Regions from separate parts of the Homo sapiens genome. Here region 1 is linked to region 2. Evidence: fine-mapped expression QTL. A gene starts in region 2. The other region holds a variant in brackets. All regions are shown on one strand. Distances are between the middles of the regions. Region 1 overlaps ADCY10 (adenylate cyclase 10). Region 2 holds the start of GPR161 (G protein-coupled receptor 161).

What was found.
Region 1: its variant is fine-mapped to the expression of GPR161 in prefrontal cortex (BrainSeq, PIP 0.95).

What each region holds. Positions count from the first base shown.
Region 1 is chr1:167,880,201-167,885,575 of GRCh38, reverse strand. It overlaps ADCY10 (adenylate cyclase 10), which reads left to right. Exons shown (of 33, transcript NM_018417.6): 9 at 1,948-2,139; 10 at 4,967-5,085. It also overlaps a transcript of DCAF6 not described here. Among named protein-coding and RNA genes, the nearest start is that of ADCY10, 31 kb to the left of the region's middle. The variant G/TTTTG (reference allele first, on the strand shown) is at 3,092.
Region 2 is chr1:168,134,253-168,139,627 of GRCh38, reverse strand. It overlaps GPR161 (G protein-coupled receptor 161), which reads left to right and starts at 2,698. Exons shown (of 6, transcript NM_001375883.1): 1 at 2,698-2,889. RefSeq lists silencers at 2,003-2,297, 2,826-3,055.

The DNA.
Region 1 (5,375 bases), 250 kb after region 2:
ATGTGAAAAATATGTGAAAAGGTGCACAACATCACCAATCATCAGATAAATGAAAATCAAAACTACAATAAGATTATCATCTTACCCCAGTTAAAATGACTTTTATCCAAAAGACAGGCAATAACAAACGCTGGACAGGATGTGGAAAAAAGGGAATCCTTGTACACTGTTAATGAGAAAGTAAATTAGCACAGCCACCTTGGAGAACAGTTTGAAAGTTCCTCAAAAAGCTAAAAATAGAGCTACCATACAATCTAGAAATTCTACTCCTAGATACATACTCAAAAGAAAAGAAATCAATATATTGAAGAGATACCTACACTCCCATGTTTACTGCAGTGCTATTCACAGTAGTCAAGACTTGGAAGCAGCTTAAGTGTCCATCAACAGAGAAATGGATAAAGAAAATGTGGTACATATACACAACGAAGTACTATTCAGCCATAAAAAAAATGAGATCTGTCATTTGCAACAACGTGGATGGAAGTGGAGGTCATTATATTAAGTGAAATAAACCAGGTATAGAAAGAGAAACCACATGTTCTCACTTATTTGTGGGAGCTAAAAATTAAAACTATTGGGCTGGGCATGGTGGCTCATGCCTGTAATCCCAGCACTTTGGGAGGCCAAGGCAGGCAGATCATGAGGTCAGGAGTTCGAGACCAGTCTGACTAACACAGTGAAACCCCGTCTCTACTAAAAATACAAAAATTAGCCAGGCATGGTGGTGCATGCCTGCAATCCCAGCTACTCTGGAAGCTGAGGCAGGAGAATCGCTTGAACCCAGGAGGCAGAGGTTGCAGTGAGCCGAGATCGCGCCACTGCACTCCAGCCTGAGCAACAGAGCGAGACTCCGTCTCAAAAAAAAAAAAAAAAAAAAATTAAAATGATTGAACTCATGGGGGTAGAGAATATAAGGATGGTTACCAAAGGCTGGGAAGGGTAGTGGGGGATGAGGAGGAATTGGGGGTGGTCAATGAGTACAAAAAAAGAGAAAGAATGAGAAAGACCTAGTATTTGCTAGTACAACAGGGTAACTATAGTAAAAAATAATTTAATCATTGATATGGTTTGGATTTGTATCCCCTCCCAAATCTCATGTTGAATTATAATCCCCAATGTTGGTGGAGGGGACTGGTAGGAGGTGATTGGATCATAGGGGTGGATTATACCCTTGCTGTTCTCGTGATAGTGAATGAGTTCTCATGGGATCTGATTGTTTAAAAGTGTGTAGCACTCCCCCTGCTCTCCTCTGGCCATATAAGAAGTGCCTGCTTCTCCTTCGTCTTCTGCCATATTATAAGTTTGAGTCCTCCCCAGCCATGCTTCCTGTACAGCCCATGGAACTGTGAGTCAATTAAACCTCTTTTCCTTGTAAATTACCCAGTATCAGGTAGTTCTTTATAACAGTGGGAGAACGGACTAATACAACCATACATTTTAAAAATAACTAAAAGAGTATAATTGGATTGTTTGTAACACAAAGGATAAATGCTTGAGGGGATGAATAATCCATTTACCCTGATGTGATTATTACGCATTGCATGCCTGTATCAAAATATCTCATGTAACACAAAAATATATACATCTACTATAGACCTACAAAAATTAAAAAATTTTAAATTTTTTTAAAAATAGGAGAGCCAAAAAGAACAGTAGTTATTTCCCTTATTGCAATGGCTCATATTGGCATGAGGAAGCCAGCAGTTGGGGTAATGGAGTGGTTGCTGGCCAAAAATTAGCACATGCATAAGTCCCCACTGGAAGAGAGGGATTTTGATTATATTTCCATCTGCTCCACTTCAGGCATGCTGGCTCTGTCATGTTGTACCTCACCCATTCTGAGGTAGACATTCCCTAGATGATTTCGGGTATGAGGTGGGGGCGGTGTTGGGGGAGGGATCCACTGCCAAGGACACCTACAGAAAGCTGCTCTCTACTTTGCAGATTGATAACAAACAGCTTCAGGGCTATTTATCTGAGCTTCGCCCAGTGACGATTGTGTTTGTGAACCTGATGTTTGAAGACCAAGACAAAGCAGAAGAGATAGGCCCAGCCATCCAGGATGCCTATATGCACATCACTTCTGTCCTGAAGATCTTCCAAGGCCAAATCAATAAAGTCTTCATGTTTGACAAGGTAAGTGTGAACTATGGGATGGGAACCTACCAATAGTTTTAGGTTAGCATTCATGGACAAGCACATTGGTGAGAATAGACACAGGAAATTTAACCTAGAGGCTGGGCGTGGTGGCTCACGCCTGTAATCCCAGCTCTTTGGGAGGCAGAGGTGGGCGGATCACTTGAGGTCAGGAGTTCAAGACCAGACTGGCCAACATAGTGAAACCCTGTCTCTACTAAAAATGCAAAAATTAGCTGGGTGCGGTGGCACGTGCCTGTAATCTCAGCTACTCAGGAGGCTGAGGCAGGACAATGGCTTGAACCTGAGAGGCGGAGGTTGCAGTGAGCCGAGATCGCACCACTGCGCTCCAGCCTGGGCTATAGCGTGAGACTCCGTCTCAACTAAACAAAAAAAGAAATTTAACCTAGAAGGCCAGTCTTTGTTTATAATTATAACTTCTATGGTGGATATGGCACTTACTATGTGCCAGGCACTGTTCTCAGGACCTGATCTCTATTGACTCATTTCATCCTCATGACCACTCTGAGCAGTAGGTTGCTCTTGTCATTATCCTCATTATATAGATGAGGATGCTGAAACACAGATTAGGATACCAGGACAAGGCGAGATTACGTTTTGCTTATGATCATCAAGCTAGTAAGGGGGAGGCTGGGATTCAAACCCAGGCAGTCTGCCATCCCCGTCTGAGCTCACTATGCTGGGCTACCTCTCACTACGCTGGGCTACCTCTCACTACACATAAGTCTCCAGCTCAGTGCATGATGTATTACCCAGGGGTTTCAGGTCAGGAGTCTTTAGTAACCATCTTACCCCAGAAGCTTGTTTCCAAGAAAGCCCACTTGCCATGTCAACACCTCCAGTTCCCCTTTTATTTTCATCCATGGCAGGGAGGGGACTGCCTCTGGCTCCCAGGTGTTTTCGCTCTGTTCTTTTTTTTTTTTTTTTTTTT[G/TTTTG]AGACGGAATCTTGCTCTATTGCCCAGGCTGGAATGCAGTGGCATGATCTCGGCTCACTGAAACCTCCGCCTCCCGGGTTCAAGCGATTCTCTTGACTCAGCCTCCTGAGTAGCTGGGATTACAGGCATGCGCCACCACACCTGGCTAATTTTTGTATTTTTAGTAGAGATGAGGTTTCGCCATGTTGGCCAGGTGGGTCTCGAATTCCTGACCTCAAGTGATCCACCTGCCTCGGCCTCCCAAAGTGCTGGGATTACAGGCATGAGCCACTGCACCTGGTCTTCACTCTGTTCTTAATCAATTCAGAGAAAAGTGATGTGATGAACAAATGACCACAGATGCATATGTGAGAATTGATTTCCCATCTCAATTCCTTTTGTGTATTAAAAGCAGAGCACTTAATTACTGCCCCACATCCACTCACTCACTAATTCAACAAGCATTTACTGAGCATTTCATAGAAGACGAAAAGCTAGGGCTGGGCAGCAGAGATGAGTAACACATATATTGACACAACCAGGCAGGAAGCATGCATTCTATATGAGACGAACTAACTCTGTGCTATGGGAGTTCTGGAAAGGGATTACTTCCAGCCTGGTGTCTCCAGTACCTTCTTCAATACTGACCCATGGGTATCATAAGAAAAGAGTGTAGAATCTAAGAGAACAGTCTTTCGTGTCTTGCAGACATGGCTCCAAAGATTCCCAGCTGTGAGACTTAGCAAGTCATTGAACTTCTCTGAGCCTTGGTTTATTCCTCTTTGAATGGGGATAGTATTTGTCTCAAATGATTGTGGAAAGTTTTAAATAATGTAATATGTGTGAGGCACTTGGTGTAATGCCTATCTTAGAGTCAGTGTGCAATAAATGAGAGCTGTCATTCCATTGCTAGGGGGAATCAAAAGCTCTTGCCAGGCCGCTACATAAATTTGCAGGCAAAAGCTCCCTGCTTCCCCCAAAGGGGTTGCCCTCTTTGCACGTACCTAGAAGCAGTGTTTCCCCCTTCATGTCAAGGCAGATCCCAGTCCTTTTTAAGATCTAACAGTTGATCAAATTCTTTTGGAGAGGGTTGAAGAAATTGAGGTATTTTAGTGTTCTTTGCATTTTATCAGGATGTAACATGTCAAAAACTCAAAATTTCAACCCATCACCCTTTATTCACAATGCCCTTTTCTTACAGACAACAGCACCTGACTGAGGTCATTTTTTAAGTGACTAATACTACAAATGCCAAGTTTTAGAGTTGAATCATTGCATGGAACAGTTAGCTTTATGATAAGAAAACCTACTTACAGCCTAAGCCTTTATCCCTAAGAATAACAGTATCTGCAAAGTACTTTATAGTTTAGGATGACTTTTTGAATATATATAACACATTAATTCTTTTAGTAGCCAAAAACATCTCAGCAGGTCTACAGTATATCCATTTTCAGAGAGATAAACGGAAGTTCCTAGATTGTAATAGACTTATCTAAGTTTCCACACTTGAGAAGTGGCTTGAGGACAGAGACTTTCTGATTCCAGAGCTGGTGCCTTTTCCACTGCTCTGTGCTGCTGCTTCATAGACTTAAACTGAGCACTTTGCAGCATGGACCTTGGCCACAGGAGAGAGTAGGCCGAAGCATGCACACAGATAGCTCAGCCCTATTCACTATATCTGGAGCAAAACAAGCCCTTCTCAAGGCTCAAGCCCTCCTGTTGATGATGCAGTAGAAGTGTTTGAAGTGTACTAAAAATAAAATACTGTGAGAGAAATCATGATAAAATCTGATTCAGAAGCCAAAAATTGCCGCCGGCTCTCTGTTGAGCCTTCTGGCCAGTCCAGTTTAAAGCACACTGTCCATCAGCTGTGGTTGCTGTCTCTCTCCCTCACAGGGCTGCTCTTTCCTCTGTGTCTTTGGCTTCCCTGGGGAAAAGGTACCTGACGAGCTCACTCATGCTCTGGAATGTGCTATGGATATATTTGACTTCTGCTCTCAAGTCCACAAAATCCAGTGAGTATTGACCCTGGTCCCACCCAGCGGTCCCTGACCCTTTTGAGGCATAAGTAGGGAGGGCATGCAGGGAACAGGAAAGAAAGAAGAATTAATTAAGAACTTAGTCCTGTGTCTCAAACTGTTGTTCCTCCTTCGCATCTCCGGGCCATGTAGAAATGCCATAAACTAATTCCAACGGGTAGAGAAAATCCTTTCCCACCCTTTCCCAACCCAGACATTATTTCCCACCCTTCCCACTTTCTCTACGCTCATTATCTTTATTTCTTTCCCCACAAATCTTGTCTCCC
Region 2 (5,375 bases):
CCCATACTGATTCAATAAAAATATATGTATATTGATTGGCTCTTGTTTCTGATCAGTCCAGAGGCACATCAGTTTCAGGGAAGTTTCCATCTGAGGTCAAATGGTTTTACCATTCTATCAGTGGAGGCATACTGTAAACAAATAAATAGAAAAATTGATGCATATTTTATAAATTTGGACACATTTTATGTAGAAAAACAACAGAGCTGTGAAAGAGTACATAGATTAGAGAATTTCTTTTAGATTGGTCAGGGGCTGAGTGCAGTGGCTCACATCTGTAATTCCAGCACTTTGGGAGGCCAAGGTGAGAGGATAGCTTGAGCCCAGGAGTTAAAGACAAGCCTGGGCAACATAGCAAGATCCCATCAGGGAAGACTTCTCTAAGGAAGTGACATTTAAGGTGAGATGTGAAGGGCAGGAAGGGCTTGGCCTGTAAAGAGTGGAGGAAATAACATTCCATGTGGAACAAATAGCATATTTCACAGTTTTGCTTTCACCAGTTTTATGTGGACTGCTAGACTGAAATGATATTTTACATAAAATATGTTTTATATATAAATTATTCAACACACATGTGAGGTTCAGTTGGACAAGGCCTCTCATTATCTTACTTTATAAGTCTTTGTGGATGTCTCTAAAACAGAATGGTTTATTAAACTAATTTGGGAAAGGAGAATTAGTGTGTATCTTTCTCTTTTTCTAAAAAAATATAAATACATTCTTGCACAAAATCAGTCACGTTTTTCACAATTGTCACCTATACAATGATATACGGTGAAATAATTACTTTAATAATAATTTGTCTGTTTTCTCTGCATCTGATTGAATTCTGCTCATAGCTCAATATTAGCTCCAGAAGGGAAAAAAATCTTAAGAGAGCAATTGAAAATGCATTTGTTGGCAGCAATTTCCATCCCTGAATGCACAGTAAGTTCTGAGCTTATGAGCTCAGAAAAAAGAAAAATCTTTGTGATAAATAATGCATTTGATAATGAGCAGCAGGAGAAAAAAAGTGTTTTCTGTTGAAGAGTTCAAAATGAAATAGAGTAAGTATGGGAAAAGGTTGCTCAGTATGAAGGACATCTTTCGCATCATGGATGGGTATGGAGCCACAACAGCCGTAACTGTTTATTTTTTATTCTCATTCTCACCATGCCAGTCTGTGGCATATATTTTCAGACCTTTCGTGAATACCAATTTTCAAAAGGGTTTAGTTCTCAGATTCTATGTCACTGGATGATTTACTTACATGACCTCATTTAACCTTTTCAACTCTACAGATAGGAAAGTATGAGTATCCCCATTTTATATATGAATAAGCTGAGAGGAAGGTTAACTCACTCCCTCAGGCTCATAGAGCTTAGCCGACATCTGAGTCAGTGTAAATTAAATAAATATCAGGGATTTCAAAATAAGTGTCTAAAATACTATTAAGAACAGAAAGCTTTAAGCTCCTTCAAGTGTCTGGCTTGCCGCGTGACCTAGACTCTTAAGTGGAGCGTCAGCTTCCAGTTTTTGACCAAATAAAGCATTTATCCCATAGGAATATTAAGGCACCCATTTACTTTTTTCTCCCCATTATCCCATTTGTCCCCAGAGCAATGTGGGTGTTTGGCAGGTGCCAGACAGTAAATTACTGTTCTAAATTGTGCCTCAGTGGCCCAATAATATTAAGGAAGCATCTCCCACAGTGTCAATCTGTAGACAAGGGAATAATTAATGTATTTATCAAAGCAGATGGATTTCAGAGGAATGTGAATCCTGCTCTAAGCACAGCATCAGGGTTTGTTTTTTTTTTTCTGGAGTTTAGTGAACTGGGCTTTGTAACTTCTTACCTGATTATTTTGCTGCCCTGTTTGTCCTTCCTTCTTTCCCTTTTTAGCAGTTCTACTCTGTGCTTCAACTTTTCATCCCCTTATTAAGACTGCTGCATAGAAAACGTAGGAGTCTGGAGACAGGCAGGCAAAGTGGGGAGTGAGGAAGGGAAAACAAACATTCTGAGAAGGAACTGTTCCGTCCCCCGAGCTGACAGCGCCCGCTCTTTGTTTTGTGATGACTGCTCCCTGGCCTTTTGGTTCCGAGGGAGTGCAGGGCAGCAGTGTGAAGACCTGTTTACGTCCACTCCCCACTCCCCGGGGCTGGCTTCGGGACGAATTCACTGTGGTATTAACAGAGCCCGGGACAGAGCCTGGCAGAAGGCAGATGGATGCTCGTGCCCGTCGGCTGGATGAATGAAAGGTGAGCAGCAAAGGCGATACCAGGATCGTCCACGGCGGGACTGGAGGAGGAGAATGGGACTGTGCGGAGCCTGCGGGAAGAATCTGAAAGTGTCTGTGTGATGGAGAGAGACATGGAAAAGGCGACGTCCCAGCGGCTGGAACTGGGGCGGAGGAACGGGAACAGGGAAGGCCTGAGTTAGGCACCACAAAGGTTTTCAGGAGAAAAGTGGGGCGAGCCGAGAGGGTAAGGGCGAGACAAAGAGCAGCAGCCGAGGCTGTTCGTGGGAAGAAATGGGAAAGAAGCAGCCGGGAGGGCGGGCGGACGGACGCGAAGGAAGGGGCGCGGGTGGGGAGGGGCGCCGGGAGCTGGGCGGGGCGGGGCAGTGCGGGGCGCGGGGAGGCGGCTCGGGGCTCCGGGGGCCGGAGGGGCCCGGCCGGGCGTGGGGGGGGCGGGGCGGGGCGCGGGCGCCGCAAAGTTACTTGGCCTGCGCCCGCCCGGGTCCGCGTGCTGGTGGCTGGCCCGCGGGAGGAGCGAAGCGGGGCTCGGTGGGCTGAAACCCGAAACCTCCAGTCCCGGAGCGCGGCGGGGAGGAAGGAAGCGGCGGCGGCGGTGGCCGAGGCGGGGAGGCGGCTGGGCCGGGGCCTGAGCTGCCGCGGCGGCCGCTCCTCGGTGAGCACCCGGCGTGGGGCGCGGGCGCGGGCCCGGGCGGAGAGGGCGGTCCGGATGGAGCCAGGCTAAACTCATTGTGCGAGGCTGAGGGCTCAGGGCGCGGGCCGGGAAGGGTCCCCGCCCCCACGGCGCTCCCTTTCTCCCCGCGCCCCTCTCGGAGGTCAGGGCTGTCCTCCGCCCGCACTGCGCCTTGCTTTGGAGAGCTGGAGCTCTTTGTGGGAAGATGTTGGGGGCGCGCCCCTCCCCTGCGGCCTGGGGCTTCTGAGAGGCCCACCCCATTCTGCTGGGTGCAGCCCGCCCCGTTTCTCCGGCGCCGCCCGAAGCCCCTAAACAGTCCGCTGGATGGGAGGGCGTAGGTGCGTGCCCGGGACTCTGCCGATGCGGGCCGCGCCCCCTGGGGCCAAGAGACTCCACGTCCCGCTCAGGGCAAAGGGTGTGGGGAGAAGCGGTCACGCCCCTCGGCTGGAATCCGTGAGGACCAGGTGAGCAGCCTTCTCCCAGCCGGGACTCAGGGCGCTGTCTCCCCGAGCCTGGGCGGGCGGCGGGTGGCGCGCCCAGAAGTGGCCCGGCGCCGCCGGATGGGCGGCTCTGCCCCTCAGATCTGCGGGAGGGAGATTCGGCTGGTTCTTGGAAAGGGGAGAACTCGACCAGCCCTCGGCGCCTTCTGGGCCAAGCTTAACCCCCGTGCAACCTTTGGACAAAGGCATATGGGATGAGAACGTCTGTTGGGTAAGTGGGGTGTGTCCTGTGCTTCCCGGAGGTCTGCTCACCAGTAACCACATAGCTGCGCATTGGCATCGCTTTATATCACATCTTGGAGGCTATTTTTGCTTGTTATTGTACTTTCATCCCTTTTGCAAAGTGCTTTCATAGAGCAGGTCATTTGATCCACCTCCCGGTGAAGCCGTGAGGAGGTGTGTGGTTTTGGAGGGAAAGAACCTCAGTTCCTTGATTGTCCAATGGAGACACCGATAACCTCCGGTGAGCCTGTCTCAGCGTCCTAGGGGCTGGGGGAGGATGGCCATCCTTGTGGCTCCTCCGTGGAGCCAGGCGTGGATTCAGCCTGGCTTCTTCTCCCCTAGTGACCTGGACCTCCAGATGAGTTCTGGAGAGCTACTGCTTCGGGGAATAGGCGGTTTTCCCTTATAATCTATTTTACTGCAGCCACTGGGAGCAAGTGAAGAGAGGCATTTTTCAGGCCCTCAGGGCAGAAAGAGGAGGTGGGAGGGACCTCAGGTCATAGAGACAGAGGCTCTTCAACTGTAACTGGAATGCATGGCACCCATTTCTGTTACTTCTTTCAGAGCACCTCTCTTCCGGTCCTCCTCCACACCCGTCTTATTTTATACTTGTCAGGTGCTTACAAGCACTTTCATGTACACTTTTTCATTCACACAACAACCTTGTGAAGCTCTACTAGCCCATTTGATAGGTGAGGAAACTGAGGCTCAGGAGAGATGAAGCATTCTTGCCCAGCTAGGTAAGCAGCCCAGATTGAACTCAGATCTTTTGCCTTGGTAGTGCTTTTCACGTGGTTTCCTGATGGCACACAGGTGAGTTCTTTAACTCAGGGCTTCTCCCTGCCCTGTAGCTCCACTGCCATAACATCAAGAATAGAGACCCCTCATTAAGAGGCCCGCTTGACATTTTGGAACTAATCCAAGGCCGCAACGATATCCGAACCGTTCTCTTTGTGTTGCAGCCTGGTGCACTGTGCGTCCTCTGAGAGGTGAAGGAGCACTGTGTGGTCAGAGGGCTGCGAGCTCTCTGTTTGGGTTCCGAGGAAGACAGAATGGGCTGAACTGGAACTGACCTAAATGTCAGCAAGAGGAGGTACAGTTCTGTGGTGTAAACTCCACTGCCAGCAGGGACCAGTCAGGAAGCCTGAGTGCAGGAGGCGGGTGGACAGGAGGGCTGGGTGGGAGCTGTGTGCTGCTAAGCCTGTCTCCAGTAAGGGGGCAGCTGCAGGTGCGGTGGGGCTCCAGCACATGGTTGCCTGATCTTAGTTTTGGGGGAAACTGTAAATTTTTACGGAAAACAAGCTTCATATATTTTTAAAGATAGCAACTGATTCAAAACATTTTTTTTAATGTGCGTGCAGTTTAACCAAATTATGTGTGCAGGCTGCTTGCGTCTTCTGTGTGAGACCTTGGGAAGCACTGACTGTCATTCTGAGATGCAGTAAAGCATGACAGCAGGGGAGAAATGGTGTCTTCTTGCTGTTTTTCTATAAGAACAAAAAACATCAACAGAACTAGAGATAGCTATCAGTGCTACCTGGAGTTTGGAGGAGGGATTGACTTTATGACTCCATACTTCATTCATTCACCCAGTACTCGTCTATGACTCTGTTTCTACACCAAGAGAAAAGGCTTACAACTAGTTTTAATCTATTTCCTTGCACATTTTATGTGCTCAGCAGGGGAGAGGATAGCATTCATGGCAAATATGTTCAGGGAGTGCTGGAGCATAAAGGAAGGAATTTG